2 separate regions of the Homo sapiens genome follow, and region 1 is linked to region 2. The links come from fine-mapping of genetic effects on gene expression. Tissue or cell type: sigmoid colon. Region 2 holds a variant in brackets; the other region holds the start of a gene. All regions are shown on one strand. Distances are from middle to middle.

Region 1 (8,000 bases), 70 kb after region 2:
GCCAGGATGGTCTCGATCTCCTGACCTCATGATCTACCTGCCTCGGCCTCCCAAAGTGCTGGGATTACGGGCGTGAGCCACAGCGCCCGGCCGTTAAATACATCTTCTAAATTTCCTATCATGCATACAGTTGAAATACATACTTATATTTTCCCAATTTAGCAAAGTATAGAAGACATTAAAATCAATTTTAAAAAGCGGCAGCCTCGGGCCGTCCACATGACGAGGGGCCGCCCAAGCCAGTGTGGAATCACCAGGGTGTCGGCCACCACCAGGACCACCGGCCTAAGGCCTCCTGCTCACACCCGGGGAACTGCATCATTAGGAACAGGGCGTCAGACATTAGAGGGGACGGCGCAGCCGGATGCCCGCCAGTGGCAGGTGTGCCTGCTGGCCTGGCTTCCCGTCCTGCTGCACACCCGGGCCTGCCTCGCGGCCTGCGCCCCACCTGCAGCCTGAACGCATCAGGGAATGCGGACTTGGGGGGCCTCAGTCTGAAGACGGCGACGCTGACAGCTGAGGGAGGAATAAGCCTGGCCCTTCCTACATGTCCCTGCTGTCACCACTGTCACCAGAGAAGGGAAGTCCCCTGTGCCCTGCAGTGACCTGGGCCAGTCACCTCCCTGCCCCACCCAGAGCCCTTAGAGGGAGGGTGGTGGCCAAGACACCCTCAGGCACCCAGGCTTCCTGCCTTTGCTTTTTATTCAAGCTTCCTTGAGATGCTTGTGGGTTCACACATAGCTGTGAGGAAACTGAACAGACCCCCTGAAGCCTTTGTCAGCTCCCCTAAGTGTGTGATCTTGCAAACTGAGGTCACGCCAGATGCCGAAATCTCCATCCCCCCCAGGAGCCCTCACGCTGCATGTCACAGCCACGCCCACTTCTCCGCCTGGAAACCTCTCTACATCTGTGCTCCCTTTAGTTTCGTCATTTTGAGCACATTCTATGGACAGGATCTTGCTATTTGCGACCTCGGGGACTGGCTTTTATCACCATCATTCCCTGCAGATCCATGCAGGGTGCTCAGCCTTTTAATCCCGAGCAGTATCTGCCCTTTGCCTTTCAACTGCAGGTATCACTAACGTCTGACATGAAGGTTTTCAGTGCCTCGACCCTACGAGAGCTGACACATCCCCCAGCCTCTTGCAGGTGCAACACCCAGCCCCACACTCACCCGGACCAGGCTGGGTGCCACACTCGTGCACGGGATCCTCACGTGCTTCAGGCACTTCTCATGAGACATGAAATTGCAGACTGTGGGAATGAGCACTGTGTGAGTTGGCCCCTGTCCTACCCAATGGCTGTCCTACCCAGGAAGTTAGAGGCCCCAGGGCAATGACTGCCATACCCACCATGCTGCACCAGGGGCCCTGTGGTCCTCGAGTTCCCCCACCACCCTGCCCACTCATTGGAGAGAGCCTGCAGCCCAGGAGCCCAGGAGCAAGAACCTGGGTGGTCCTGACCATCCTGGAGGACAATGAGTGTATCCTCTCATCCAGAGAGCAGTCCCTCCCCTTCGCACGTAGGCCCAGCACTCCTCCTGCCTCTGCAGTTGGGCCTCTCAAGGGGCAGCCCTGGGCTCACCAGGTTCGCCAGGTGGCAGGGGCTTCTCGGCCTTCGGCAGATTGGCTTTACCAAGGACATCTGTGTCTCACTCCCCCGAAACTACGCATACCCCTAATTGTCCCTGCTACGTGCTGTGCACCGTGCCTGAGACCGAGAGCCACCCAAGGCAGGTGAGGGCTCTGGGAGGCAGGAGCCGCTGGGGAGTGGACAGCCCCAAGCCTCCCAAGGAGCTCTGGCTGTGTGCATAGGACCCAGGGAGCACCTGAGCCGGCGGGGTGCTCAGGAGGGCATAAGAGGAGCAAGCGCCACACCCCAGCAGTAAAACAGACAGGAGGGTGGGGCCGGGGCAGAAGGGAGGGCAGGAACCCTGGGCTGGGGCAAAGGCTGCGGGGGCTGGGAGTGGGCAGGGCACCCAGTGACACAACTGCCAAGACAGCCCCGGGTGAAGGTTGTGCCACGGAGCCCCAGGCAGTCCAGCTGGGACAGGGAGCTCTTCCAGAAGGCCCCGCTGGTGCCGCCCTTCACCTGCTGCAGCCCTAGCCACCCCAGTCTCCAGATGGGACCGGGAGAAGCTTCTCCTGGCAGCTTAAGAGAAAAGCTCTGGAAGCAGGCCAGGGTCCACCGAGAGAAGGGGGGACAGGCAGCACCCAGGTCCCTCCTCTGCCATGGAGACAGGGCCTGCTCACCCCACGCCCCACGCTTGGGTCTCCTGGCGGGGAGGGTGCCCTCCTTCCCATACCGCTGCTGGCCCCTCTTCCACGGGTGCTGCCCAGGAGGGCCCTTTTGCCCCCTCCGAAGGGGGAGGGGACCCGGAGTCTGGCCTCAAGTCGGGAGCTGCCTCAGCCACACATGCACACTCCCCACCTCTGGGGAAGCCCCTGGCATCCCCAGGCAGCAGGCATGGCTGTGCCATGCTCTGACGTGACAAAGAAGCTGGCGGGCCAGGCCACCTTGTGCAGCCCTGGGGGTCAGAACAACCATGCCGTTTCCACCACAGACGACATCCCCGTGTGAGGGGACAGTCTCCTCTGCGGACCCTGACCTGAGTGGACCCCTATCCCCAGAGAAAGGCCTGAGGCTAAGGATAGCCCCTCCCACCTCAGCGTCCCTGGCCAGGACACAGTAAGTGTCAAACGTCCAGAACTCCGGTCCTGTCCCTCGCTCCCTCCAGAGGCTGGGCTGTGGTCCCCCTGTCCCTCGCTCCCTCCAGAGGCTGGGCTGTGGTCCCCCTGTCCCTCGCTCCCTCCAGAGGCTGGGCTGTAGTCCCCGGGGCCCGCCTGCTTGCCGCGGGGGAAGATGAGAGCCAGCCCTGGGAGCACCCGGGCCCAGAACAGGGAAGGGCTGTCCTCACCCCAGCAAGAGCTGGGCAGCTGGGTGGAGCAGGGCTGGGACACGCGCACCGGGACGGCAGGGCCCGGCCTGGCTCTCCAGGAGGCTGGGACTCTGGGCCACAGCATGAGAAGGGCTAGGGCCAGGGGCCCAGGCCAGCCCTGCTTAGCCACACCTGCTGCCCCAGCCACTGGGAGAGGAAGCCGGCCATGGGGACCCCAGCTGAGGTCCCGCTCGCATCAGGCACAGCCCCTGGGTCGCAGCCATCGCGCGGCACTATGGAGATGCTGTCCGCACCTCCCAGGTGAGGAAGCCCGCAGCCTGGAGCGGCCCCACGGCGCACAGGCCCCGGCCGCCCCACGAAGGCACGTCCCGCGAGCAGGGCTGGGACCCCGCCCTCCACTCCCCCGAAAGCGCCGGTGCCACCTCCGCTCAGGCTCCCGCCCACGGGGCAGAGGCAGGGCTGCAGCCGGGTAGGCATCGGGCCCGGGCGCTCACCGTCGCACAGGAAGCCGGCCAGCCCCCAGATGAAGTCGGAGCAGAGGTGGCAGAAGGTGGGCTTGGTGAGCGTCACCTTCCGGAAGCTGTGTCCCGGCGCGGCAGCGGGGCCCGGGGCTCTGACGCCCGCCCGCTCGGGTCCCGGCCCCGGCCCCGGCCCCGGGCGCGCGCGGCCTCCTGAGCCCAGCACGGGGCTGCAGGCCGGGCTGCCGGGGCGCGGGGAGCCGCCGCCCAGCCAGGCGCGGGCCCCGGGCTCGGCCGCCGCCGCCATTCCCGGCCCGAGCGGCCCGAGCCCCTTTAGGTCCGCGCCGGGGGTACAGGAGCCGCCGCTCCACGGCCCGGTACACTGCTTCCGACTGCGCCTGCCCCACTGCGCAGGCGCGGGCCGCGGGGCGGGGCGGGGCGCTGCTGGTGGGCGGATCTGGGGGCTGGCGGGGCGGGGCCTGCTAAGGGTCGCAGCCGTGCCCCGTCGATGAGCGGGGCTGGGGGCGGGCCCTGTGATCGGGCGGGGCGGGGCCTGCTAAGGGGCGGGGCCTGTGCGCGGAGGCCGCTCGCGAACCAGCCGTGGGGAACTGGTCCACGTGGGCTCGGTTTGACCGCAGCCGGGCCAGACTTCTCCGGACGCCGCACGCGCGGCGTTGTACCTGCGGGGTCCCGGCCCGCGGCTGCGCAGACAGGCGCCTCCCACGCGAGACGCGGATGCTGTCCGAGGCCCCCGGCCGCGCAGGACGCCCCCGGCGAGGGGCAGCGCTGCGGGCCTCCCACAGTGGGTCCCGGAAAGCGGGGTTTGCGGTGCTTGGGCGGCTCCGTCCGTGGGGTCTTCGCACGCGCAGACTTGGCCCTGCCCGAGGCCCAGGACCCCCGGCGCCCGACCGCTGTCCTCACTGCAACGGGGGACCCGCCTGCGGCCCGGGGCTGTCCGCTCGCGACCCCCACCCGGGCCTCACGCCGAGCGCCCAGCTCTCCTGCCTCGTGCGCGCCACGGGTCTTGTTCAGGTGGCGCTGGTGTCCTTTGAGAGCCGCGTCCACGCGGGTCACCCCTCCCCGCCGCTGGCAGCAGTCTGGGTCCTTGCCCCCGTGGGCCTAACTGTGGATAGGAGTCTGCGAAGCGGGGGACCCCACCCCGGGCCACCGAGCGGGGACCTGCAGAGGGCAGGGCTCCAGGGCCATCGCAGCAGGCGGTCTCAGGGGGCAGGAAGAGCAGGGAAGGGCCTGTGGGGAGACGCCTGAAAGGGGCTGGGGGCTGTGGACTCTGGAGGGAAGGAGCCGGGAGACCTGTCCTAGGGGCTGTGCTGGTGAGGGCACCCAGACCACAGGGGATTCCAGGAATGGAGGGTGAGCCGGGGACCCAGTCTGAGGAGGGAGGAGCAGGCCCCTGAGATGGTGAGGGGGGAGACGCAGTCCTCAACCAGGGAGGATTCTGTTTGTCCAGAAGCTGCTGGTTGAGCTGCTGGGGTAGGACCCTGGGTGGACCCCAGGGTAAAGGGAATGCAGCCAAAGCTTCAGGGAACCTTCACCCTCCAGGAGCTGCGCTCTGGGACAGACAGCACCCTGAAGAATGAGGGCTGCCTGGGGGCAGCAGGAAGGCGTCCAGGCGGAAAGCCGGAGCAGAGGCCCTGTGGCAGGGTGCTCCGCAGAAATCCTTTCCTGATGCCCACCTATGCTGGGAGGCCCGGAGTCACCACCCCTGCATTCCCTGTCTCCTGTGCCAGACCCCACCCCGAGCCTGCCCTCAGCCAGGCCCCAAGACCCCCTGTGCCTGGGCCCTGGGAGAGCTAGGACCCAGCCTTGTGGCCCATGAGGAGGAGGTGGCTCACTGAGCCCGTGGTGCTCATGGCAGTGAACCACGGTGCAAACTGCAGCTGGCTTCTGAGGAAAAACTGTTTAAGGACATACCTTTCTCCATTTAGGAGACAGTGGAGAGCATCAAAAACATCTTAAAAAGGAAAACCCTCATCTACCATTTCTGCCAGAACTTTCTGCTTTCTGACGCACACGTTAATTAAAATGGCGGGCAAAGCATCCTTCCAGCAAACACTCCACGGACTTCCTAGAACGTCCTCCAAAGCCACCAGCAGCTTCTCGCTGAAGGGGCCTTAAAACTTTGAATCCGCTCTCCCTCTCCCTCTCCCTCTCCCTCTCCCTCCACGGTCTCCTTCCACGGTCTCCCTCTGATGCCGAGCCAAAGCTGGACGGTACTGCCGCCATCTCGGCTCACTGCAACCTCCCTGCCTGATTCTCCTGCCTCAGCCTGCCGAGTGCCTGCCATTGCAGGTGCGCGCCGCCACGCCTGACTGGTTTTCGTGTTTTTTTTGGTGGAGATGGGGTTTTGCTGTGTTGGCCGGGCTGGTCTCCAGCTCCTAACCGCGAGTGATCCGCCAGCCTCGGCCTCCCGAGGTGCCGGGATTGCAGACGGAGTCTCGTTCACTCAGTGCTCAATGGTGCCCAGGCTGGAGTGAAGTGGCGTGATCTCGGCTCGCTACAACCTCCACCTCCCAGCCGCCTGCCTTGGCCTCCCAAAGTGCCGAGATTGCAGCCTCTGCCCAGCCGCCACCCCGTCTGGGAAGTGAGGAGCGTCTCTGCCTGGCCCCCCATCGTCTGGGATATGAGGAGCCCCTGTGCCTGGCTGCCCAGTCTGGAAAGTGAGGAGCGTCTCTGCCCGGCCGCCATCCCATCTAGGAAGCGAGGAGCGCCTCTTCCCCGCCGCCTTCCCATCTAGGAAGTGAGGAGCGTCTCTGCCCGGCCGCCCATCGTCTGAGATGTGGGGAGCACCTCTGCCCCGCCGCCCTGTCTGGGATGTGAGGAGCACCTCTGTTGGCCACAACCCTGTCTGGGAGGTGAGGAGCGTCTCTGCCCGGCCGCCCCGTCTGAGAAGTGAGGAAACCCTCTGCCTGGCAACCGCCCTGTCTGAGAAGTGAGGAGCCCCTCCGTCCAGCAGCCACCCCGTCTGGGAAGTGAGGAGCGTCTCCGCCCGGCAGCCGCCCCGTCCGGGAGGTGAGGGGCTCCTCTGCCCGGCCGCCCCTACTGGGAAGTGAGGAGCCCCTCTGCCCGGCCAGCCGCCCCATCCGGGAGGTGAGGGGCGCTTCTGCCCAGCCGCCCCTACTGGGAAGTGAGGAGCCCCTCTGCCCGGCCACGACCCCGTCTGGGAGGTGTGTCCAGCGGCTCATTGGGGATGGGCCATGATGACAATGGCGGTTTTGTGGAATAGAAAGGCGGGAAGGGTGGGGAAAAAATTGAGAAATCGGATGGTTGCCGGGTCTGTGTGGATAGAAGTAGACATGGGAGACTTTTCATTTTGTTCTGTACTAAGAAAAATTCTTCTGCCTTGGAAAAAAAAAAAAAAAACAACAACTTTGAATCCCAGCCTGGACCACGGCACCCGCCACAACGGAGCTTGTCTGCCAGAGGGACAGCTTCTTCTGTGCAGGCCCGTCCACGTCTCCAGGCCTGTGTCTCCCACTCCCTTTCCTGTCTGTCTTGGTCAACGTGGGCTGCCGTGACAGAAGACCACAGACTGGAGGCTTAAACCACAGGAAACGTGTTTCTTACTGCTCTGGAGGATGGGAAGTAGAGATGGGGGTACTGGCATGTTTGGTTCTGGTGAGGGCCTCTCCCCCCACCACTCCCCTGAGGAAACCAGGGTCTAAAGTCTAACCATACTTATGGGTAGAACTGTCCCCCCAAAATTCTATGTTGACATTCCAACCCCCAGCACCTCAGAATGAGACTTGTTTGGAGACAGAGTCTTTACAGAGAAAATCAGGTTAAGGTGCGGTCACAAGGGCGGGCCTCACCCCAGCATGAGGCGCCCTTATGGAAAGGGGATCTGGAGACAGGCATGCAGGGAGAGGCCGTGCGAAGATGAAGGCCGAGGTCAGGGCGGTGCTTTCTCAGGCCAAGGATCACCGAGGGCTGCTGGCCGCCACAGGGAGCTGGGGAGAGGATGGGACCGGTCCTGCCTCGCAGCCTCGGAGGAGCCGGCCATGCAACCGGATCCTAGACTTCTTCACTCTGAGCGTGTGCATGAGTAACTGCGGAAGCACGGTGGGTATTGATTCTGGGGCTTAAACACATTCAGCAAGCTGGTGTATTTGCAGATGCAGGATCTCTGAGCAAGGGGGCTGGCCGGTGCATGTCACATGTGCCTAGACCCTCCATGCAACGGCTCTTAGGGGGTCCTAGTTTTCCTGCCATCCGACTGACCAAGCCTTCCCTTCCACAAGGCGTATGTCCTGTTTAAGCACCTGCCTCCCCTGAGGTCTTAAATAGGTTTCCCTATTGGGAGGGGAGTCTTTTTACGTTTTACATTTACATCTGTGAGCCAGCCAAGACTGATCTGGGGGTGTCGTGTGAGGTGGGTCCAGCTGCTTGTTGGGGGCGCTTTCCCCACAGCTCTGGGAACCTCTGCCACAAGGCAGAGAACCAAGTAAGCACAGGGCTGGAGCTTGCACAGGTTTCGGGCAGCCTGAAGCCAATGGGGATGTCTTTTTTTTTTTTTAGACGGAGTCTTGCTCTTGTTGCCCAGGCTGGAGTGCAGTGGTGCGATCTCCGCTCACTGCAACCTCTGCCTCCCAGGTTCAAGCGATTCTCCTGCCTTAGCCTCCTGA
Region 2 (8,000 bases):
ACACGGCCACTGAAGGCCCAGGAGTGCCCATCCCCTCGCGTGTGCCCGTTCCCATTCTACAGCCAACAGAGACGAAGCTGTGCGCACAGCAGGACGATGCACAGGGCAGGCGAGTGGGGCCACCTGTGCCCGTTCCCATTCTACAGCCAACAGAGACGAAGCTGTGCGCACAGCAGGACGACGCACGGGGCAGGCGAGTGGGGCCACGTGTGCTGCCTGCCCCTCCGCAAACAGCCGTCCAGACTCCCACGGCGGAGGCCACAGGTGAACACACGCGGGCTGCAGGGCTGGCCTGGGTTCCCGCCACGCCGCTGTGGAGCAGCAGCAAGGCCAGTGCTGTGAAGTGCAGGCCTGGCTCACAGACACGGATTCTTCACCAATTCAACCCTTCTGTTTCTGTTCTCCTTAAAATACACACTCAAGCCCCGCTACACGACCCATCACACTTCAAAAATGCGAACCAGGAGGGTCTCGGTGTCATGAGAAAATCCACCACTCAGAGACTCCTCAGGAAGAACCACCCAGACAGCAAACAGCACCTTCCACGGGCAGGACTGGCCCCTCATGGAGCCCTGCAGCCCCTTCCGTCAGAATGGGGCCTCAGGCGCATGGGTTTCTGGAAACCAGGGGTCTTGCTTGCAACCTTGAAGAAGCTTCCCTCAAAAGCAACCCTGTGTGCTGGGCAGAATGTACTTTTAGAAAAGTAAAATACAAGGAAAGAAGAAACAGAAGGAAGAGAGGGAGGGAGGAAAGGAAGGAGAAGGGGTGAAAGGGCCTGGGGCATGGCTCAGGAGCAGGCTCCACAGCGGTGGCCATGGGAGCGAAAGGGCCTGGGGCTCAGGAGCAGGCTCTATGGCGGTGCCCACAGGCTTCTGCCATGGGGCATCTGTCCAGTCGGCCACCTTACACCCTGGCATTCTAGGCCCTCTGAGTTCAGGGGACAAACGAAAAAGGCCACACTTACCCATTTTCAAAATCTACGTGAAGACACCTGTGCTATAAAGTAGGAGTGTACAGCCAAGTAGAGAAAAGGCAGCCCTAACCAGAGAAACACAGAGGGAAGCTGCCTGCCAGAGCCTTGGCCCTGGGTGGGCTGAGGCAGGCTGAGGCGGAATGAGCCTGTGCAGTTAAGAACAGCTCAGCATGGGTGCCCACGGCTTAGGCACCCCCACCCAGGGCACACAGGGAGAGCCACGGCCTTGGATCCCCCACCCAGGGCACACGGGGAGAGCCACGGCCTTGGATCCCCCACCCAGGGCACACGTGGAGAGCCACGGCCTTGGGCCTCCCACCCGGGGCACACGTGGAGAGCCACGGCCTTGGATCCCCCACCTAGGGCACACGGGGAGAGCTGGGGGGCTCTGAGGCCTCCTAGGCACCCACGAGCAGACGCTGGAGAGGAGGCGGGGCCCAGGTGGCTGCATGGGCAGACATGAGCTGATGCACGGGGTGCAGGGCCAGGTAGACACAAGGATACAGCTCCCACCTCAGGTCACACAAGGTCAATTCCAGATGAACGAAACCTCTGGACACAGGCCAGGTAGATTTCAGCAGCTGGAGGAGCAGCTGAGGCGGGTGCTGGGAGCAGGATCTGAAACACAGCTCCGTGCTCCACAAGAGACGCCACGGGGCTGGGGCCTCACTGGCCTCCTCGTCCCCTTGGCCTGGGCAGTGGCGGGGAGCCAAGGACAGCACAGGGCATCCTCCACAAGCCGTGGCCAGAGGCGCCGCTCCCGATTAGCGAGGTCTGAGAGAAGCCACACTTTGGGAAAACCAGGGAAGGCTGAGAACAGGAGGGCAAGAGACAAGGCTCGGTTCCTCCCACCTCACTGCGGATAATGGTGTCAAAACCACATAAAAAATGTCCTGGCCGGGCGTGGTGTCTCACGCCTGTAATCCCAGCACTGTGGGAGGCCAAGGCGGGAGGGTGACTTGAGGTCAGGAGTTCGAAACCAGCCTAGACAACATGGTGAAACCCTGTCTCTACTAAAAGTACAAAAATTAGCCCGGCGTGGTGGCATATGCCTGTAATCCCAGCTACTCGGGAGGCTGAGGTAGGAGAATCGCTGGAACCCAGGAGGCAGAGGCTGCATGAGCCGAGATCGTGCCACTGCACTCCAGCCTGGGCAACAGAGCAAGACTCCGCCTAAAAAAAAAAAAAAAACAGAAATGTCCTCACGTCCCCAGAGACATGGACAAAAGTATCTGGGAGTGATAAGGCTTTAAAACTTTGGCAGCCTGGGAGCGGTGGCTCACACCTGGAATCGACCCCTTTCAGAGGCTGAGGCGGGTGGATCACTCGAGCTCAGGAGTTCTGGACCAGCTTGGGCAACATGGTGAAACCCCATTTCTACTGAAAATACAAAAACTAGGCAGGCGTGGTGTGCGCCTGTGGTCCCAGCTACTCAGGAGGCTCAGGTGGGAGATCACCTGGGCCAAGTCGGCCGAGGCGGCAGTGAGCCCCGTCAGTGCCGCTGCACTCCAGCCTGGGCTGTAGAGTGACTGACTCAAAAAAAAAAAAAAAAAACCCCAAAAAACCTCTTCAGCAAAAGCCTCAGCACGGAGGACGAGGCCCACCATGGGCAGGCCAGGCACAGGCTTCACAGATAATGGAGAAGCCTCACAACGTCCTAGGTTTTTTAAAAAACACAACAGCAGGAGTGAAAACTGGGCCACAAACCAGAAGACGCCGGCAGCACAGGCGACACTTAGCAGATTATGAGAATACACAAGCTGCTCCAACGAACCAAACACACAAGCCAGTGGAAAATCTTTGAAAAAGGCAAGAAACAAAAGGAAGTTTACTGAAGAGCAAGACCCGAATGACTATAACAAACATTCAACTTCATTAACATCAGGAAAAGGCAAAATCACAACCCGTCAGACTATACTCCCCACCAGGCCAGCCAAAATCAACACAGGCAGCTCAGGGCATGGACAGCCCACGGGGCAGGAGTGTCCTCTGTGGGGCTGTGGGAAGCAGCCACATCACATGGAAACCGCGCAGTGCCGGCAGCAGCACGGAGCGCAGGCCCAGCCCCGGCCCAGAACCACCTGTGTGGCGGTGTGGTGGGCAGGGATGGAGCGCGAGCCCAGCCCCAGTCTAGAAGCATCTGTGTGGCAGTGTGGTGGGCAGGACGGCCCTTTTACATGCAGCCAGTGGCTCATGCCCACATCACGCCAACCCCGGGATGCCACGCCTCGGAGAAACCCGTGGTGACAGGAGAGATGGGCAGGAGAGTCTGCCGGTGAACGGAAGGGGAGGTGCAGTGGGGGGACAGTCAGGAAGTGCAAAGAGCTCCCCTCAAGCTGAGTAGGCAAGGGGTCCGGCCCCCGACCCCAGCGCCTGAGACAGGGCCAGGCAGAGGAGCGCCAGGCTTCCTCCCAGCTCCAAGAGGCCGAACCAGGGAGGCACTGTGGGGTCCAGGACTGCCCAGGGGCCAAGGAAGGGGCACTGGGTGAGCAGGAGTTGGGGGCCTGGGCCAACACCACTGGGGGGCTGAGGAAGGAGCGTGGGATGAGCAGGAATGCGGGGCCTGAACTGACACCACCAGGGGACTGAGGAAGGAGCGTGGGGTGAGCAGGAGTGCGGGGCCTATAGTGACACCACCGGGGGGCGGTGGGGGGGCGGCCGAGGAAGGAGTGTGGGGTGAGCAGGAATAGGGTCCTGAACTGACACCACCGGCGGGCACCCTCGTCCACAGCTCCCCACGGAAACTGGAGTGAGCAAGCATCCAGCATGGGGACCTGGTATTCCAGACGGAAGCTCCAGGCTGTGAGCACCCCCA[A/G]CTGGGCGTGAAGGCCCCCAGCAGGGAGGCGGGGCCATCCCGGGATCTCTGTCGGCAAAGGCCTGTGAGACAGATGCTAATTTTCTTCAGGGCTGGAAAAGCAACGTTTCTGGAAGATCCGCTTCCACTGTTGAGAGGCTCACGCACATCTTCTAGGTGAGATGGTGTAGCCTCACCTGCTCTCACCCCTGCATCCTAACTGAGCGGGAGCCCCCCACAGAGGCTGTGAACCGCGTGTGGAGGGAGCCACTACCTTGTGGTCCCTGTGGATGATGGGCGGCTCCTAACCGAGTGGGACCCGCACACAGAGGCCTTGGCAGCTGCGTGTGGAGGGAGCCACTACCTTGTGGTCCCTGTGGATGATGGGCGGCTCCTAACCGAGCGGGACCCGCACACAGAGGCCTTGGCAGCCGCGTGTGGAGGGAGCCACGACCTTGTGGTCCCTGTGGATGATGGGCGGCTCCTAACCGAGCGGGACCCGCACACAGAGGCCTTGGCAGCCGCGTGTGGAGGGAGCCACTACCTTGAGGTCCCTGTGGATGATGGGCGGCTCCTAACCGAGCGGGACCCGCACACAGAGGCCTCAGCAGCCGCTACCTTGAGGTCCCTGTGGATGATGGGCGGCTCCTAACCGAGCGGGACCCGCACACAGAGGCCTCAGCAGCCGCTACCTTGAGGTCCCTGTGGATGATGGGCGGCTCCTAACCGAGTGGGACCCGCACACAGAGGCCTTGGCAGCCGCGTGTGGAGGGAGCCACTACCTTGAGGTCCCTGTGGATGATGGGCGGCTTCTGCCGGTGCATGTGCTGCACGGCGCGGCACGTCTGGTAGAAGATCTTCAGAACCGTGTCGCACGAAAGGGGGCCTCGAGATTCCATTTTCTTCAAAAATTCCACCAGCTGCCCTAAAAGAGAATGAAACTCACATGGAGGCAGGAGAACAGGGTCCGGAGACAGGGAACCTAGGGCTGTTTCACGCGGACTTCCCAGAACTAAATGGAAAGGAAAACCCTGACTTTCCACACCTAAGTAACAAAACGACCAGAGGTGACTCCCTTTGACCTTTTCTGCCTGGCAGATGGGAAACTGCCTGACTGCAGATCTCCTCTTCGTTTGCAACTCTGTAACTTCACCCTGTCTTCTGATTGCTTTTCGTAACCAATCAGATGTTTGCACAGGAGTGTGACCTTCTGGTTGGCTGCTTTCTGCAACCATTAGGCTGATGGCGGGCTACCACTTCGTTTACATGAGGTGAGCACAAAGTGGCCAGTGGGAAACCTCTAGGGGGTATTTGGACCCGAGAAGATTCTGCATCTGGGCCCTTGAGCCGCTGCTTGGGCCACCCCCACACCGTGGAGTGTACTTTTGTTTTCAATAAATTCCCGCTTTCGTTCTTTTGTTGCTTCATTCTTTCTTTGTTTCGCTGGGCGTTCTGTCCAGTTTGTTCAAAATGCCAAGAACCTGGACAACTTGCAGTCACGACTCTCTACGGTTAACATCATCACCGTGGAGCAATCAGTGCTCTGCCCTCCCTGGCCCCAGGCCACGCTACAGACTCTGCCACGCCGCGCCACGCTAGGGGCTCCGCCACGCCCCATGCCATGCTACGGACTCCGCCACGCCCCATGCCACGCTACGGACTCCGCCACGCCCCATGCCACGCTACGGACTCCGCCACGCCCCAGGCCATGCTACGGACTTCGCCACGCCCCAGGCCACGTTACGGACTCCGCCAAACCAGGCCACGCTTCGGACTCTGCCACGCCCCAGGCCATGCCACGGACTCTGCCACGTTGGGCCACATTACAGACGCCACACCACACTTTGAACTCTGCCATGCCCCAGGCCATGCTACGGACTCCGCCACACCCCAGGCCACGTTACTGCAGACGCCACCACACCAGGCCACGCTGCCTTTTCCAGCCACAGTCCCAGTTAAGCCCACCCTGAGTGCCGCTCCCACCTTTCCTTCCTTCAGCTGCTGCAGAAAGGGCTGCAGGTATGAGGATGCCCACCTCAGCCCCGTGTGTGGGACCACCACCCAGTGGCAGGGGTGGGCTCGGAGCAGCCCCACAGTCAAGTCACACACAGAGCAGAGGCCAGGGGGCAAGACGCCCAAGCGTCACCGAAGCAACAACCGCGTCAGCATCCCAGCAGCTGAGCTGGCATGCCGTTAACGTGAGAACCACATCGGCATCCCAGCAGTTGAGCTGGCGTGCCGTTAACATGAGAACTACATTGGCGTCCCAGCAGCCGAGGTGGCAAGCCATTAACGTGAGAACCACACTGGCATCTCAGCAGCCGAGCCGGCGAGCCGTTAACGTGAGAATCACATCTGTGTCCTGGCAACCGAGCCAGGCATGTCATTAACATGGATACAAAGAGAAATGACTACAAATACACAAGTGCTCAAACCTCTAAGTGAACACTCAGTGTCCTCAGATGACAAATGATCATTCTCACATTCACGACAGTATCAGTGCCTGTGCGTGACCCACACCCCAGGGAGCCCGTCCTGCCATGGCTGGCACCTTCCAGGCACCCTAGCCCTGGCCCAACCAGGAAACCAGGGATGTGGGGCCGGGGCAGCACGCAGGGCTGAGGACCTGCTGGGGACTGAAGCATTCACACTGCCAGTCACCCCAGCACCCCTATGCAGCCCCCACAGACGTGCAGACCCAACCCATCCTGCTCCTACCCTGATCTTACCCTGGGTCTTGCCCACTTCAGCTGGCCACAGTCCATGTGTGGCATCATCCCTGGGGCCTCTGCATCTTGTGCCCCATCTTTTCAGCCCCGTGCTCCTGCCTCTGCTCTCTACAGAGCAGCCACCGTCACCCTCTGCTCATCCCACTCCACACCCCTGAAGGCCACGACCCCTGCAGCCCCAGAGCCAAGGCCAGTACCACCACCCACGGAACCCACACTCAGGGTCTCCCCCACGCTGCCAGAGCTTGCGCTCCCAGCCACACTGGCCTCCCTTCCTCCCTGCCTCAGGACCCCTCACAAGCTGCTTCTGCGGCCAGGATGCCTCCCAGACCGCCCCTTCTGCTCACCTCCCAAGGAACCAACTCTGCCCACACCACCTAAACGTGCACCCTTCTCCTGGGACTCATTCTCTCCCTGGCTCTTCGAGCCACCCAACCACCTGCCATGGGCATGGATCAGCTGTGTCTGGCGAGTCACTGAGCCCCCGATGCCTGCACACAGCAGAGCGTGTAGCCGACTCAATTCCACTGACAATGAAGGCATGGTGTGAGAGCCGGTCGGGACCTGCCACAGCTCAGGCTGGGCCACGCTAGAATCGACTCACAGACCGGACCCACCTGCGTGTCCCCAGCACAGCCCAGCACTGCCCCCACCTGCACCCAGCTGAGGGGCCCTCCCACTCCCCCAGCTCTGCCGGCCCTGGCCCTCAACCCCAGGTGAAAGCCCTCTCAGCCCTCACCACAGCTCCCTCAAAAGCTTTGTGCTGACCCTCTGAGAAACAGGGGGGCTCTCAGGAAAAATGAGGGGCACCCATAGAAGGAATGGGGTGCTCAGAAAGAGAGGAACAGACCCGGGAGAGGCTGAGGCCAGGCCCGGGGAGTCAGAGTGGGGGTGACTTGCCCTCTACGCTGGCCATCATGGATGGGCGAGTCTGTTTCAGTGGTAACTGGGCCCCCTGTTCAGTGCCTCATTCTCAGTGAGAATAAATGGGGTTTTTAAAAGTAAAAATTCTGTATGTGGCTGAGTGGGGAACCGGTATGTGGCTCTTCCCTCAGAGGACACTGGAGGGGTTGCCTCATGGGAGGGACCGGGCACATCCCCGGAGCCCGACCTCCAGGCCTCCTCCAGTGAGCCCTGAACCTGCAGCTGCACGGGGGAGCCCACATCCCTCCCGCTTCTCAGAGATGCCACGGCTCTCCCCTGGCACAGCTGTGCCATCCACAGAGCCCTGCAGCTCAGCTCTCAGCCGCACATGCTGCTCCAGACAGGCAGTCCCCAGGAGTGAGCTGGCGCGCGCATGCGTTAGTCTGCCTCGTGTATTTATGACTTGAGGGGCTGGGCCCGGCCCCTCTCCTTCCCACACCACCCCATGCAGGGTCAGCGATGAGCCGCTGGCCCCGGCCCTGTCCCCGCCGCTCCCTCGTGCACATATCCTGGGAACACACTGGACGCCGAGCAGCTTCAGTTTTCACACCCGTCCTGCTCAAGCCTTCCAAAGCCGGAA

What was found. PIP is the estimated chance that this variant, and not a neighbour inherited with it, causes the effect.
Region 1: DGKQ starts here. The variant in region 2 is fine-mapped to the expression of DGKQ in sigmoid colon (GTEx, PIP 0.99).

What each region holds. Positions count from the first base shown.
Region 1 is chr4:969,819-977,818 of GRCh38, forward strand. It overlaps DGKQ (diacylglycerol kinase theta), which reads right to left and starts at 3,751. Exons shown (of 23, transcript NM_001347.4): 1 at 3,394-3,751; 2 at 1,175-1,254. The coding sequence starts at 3,664. It overlaps LOC124900645 (a long non-coding RNA gene), which reads left to right. Exons shown (of 2, transcript XR_007057989.1): 2 at 1-123. RefSeq lists enhancers at 1-418, 2,255-2,895 and silencers at 3,130-3,579, 3,680-4,019.
Region 2 is chr4:900,088-908,087 of GRCh38, forward strand. GAK (cyclin G associated kinase) reads right to left here. Exons shown (of 28, transcript NM_005255.4): 5 at 4,550-4,692. Among named protein-coding and RNA genes, the nearest start is that of GAK, 28 kb to the right of the region's middle. The variant A/G (reference allele first, on the strand shown) is at 3,789.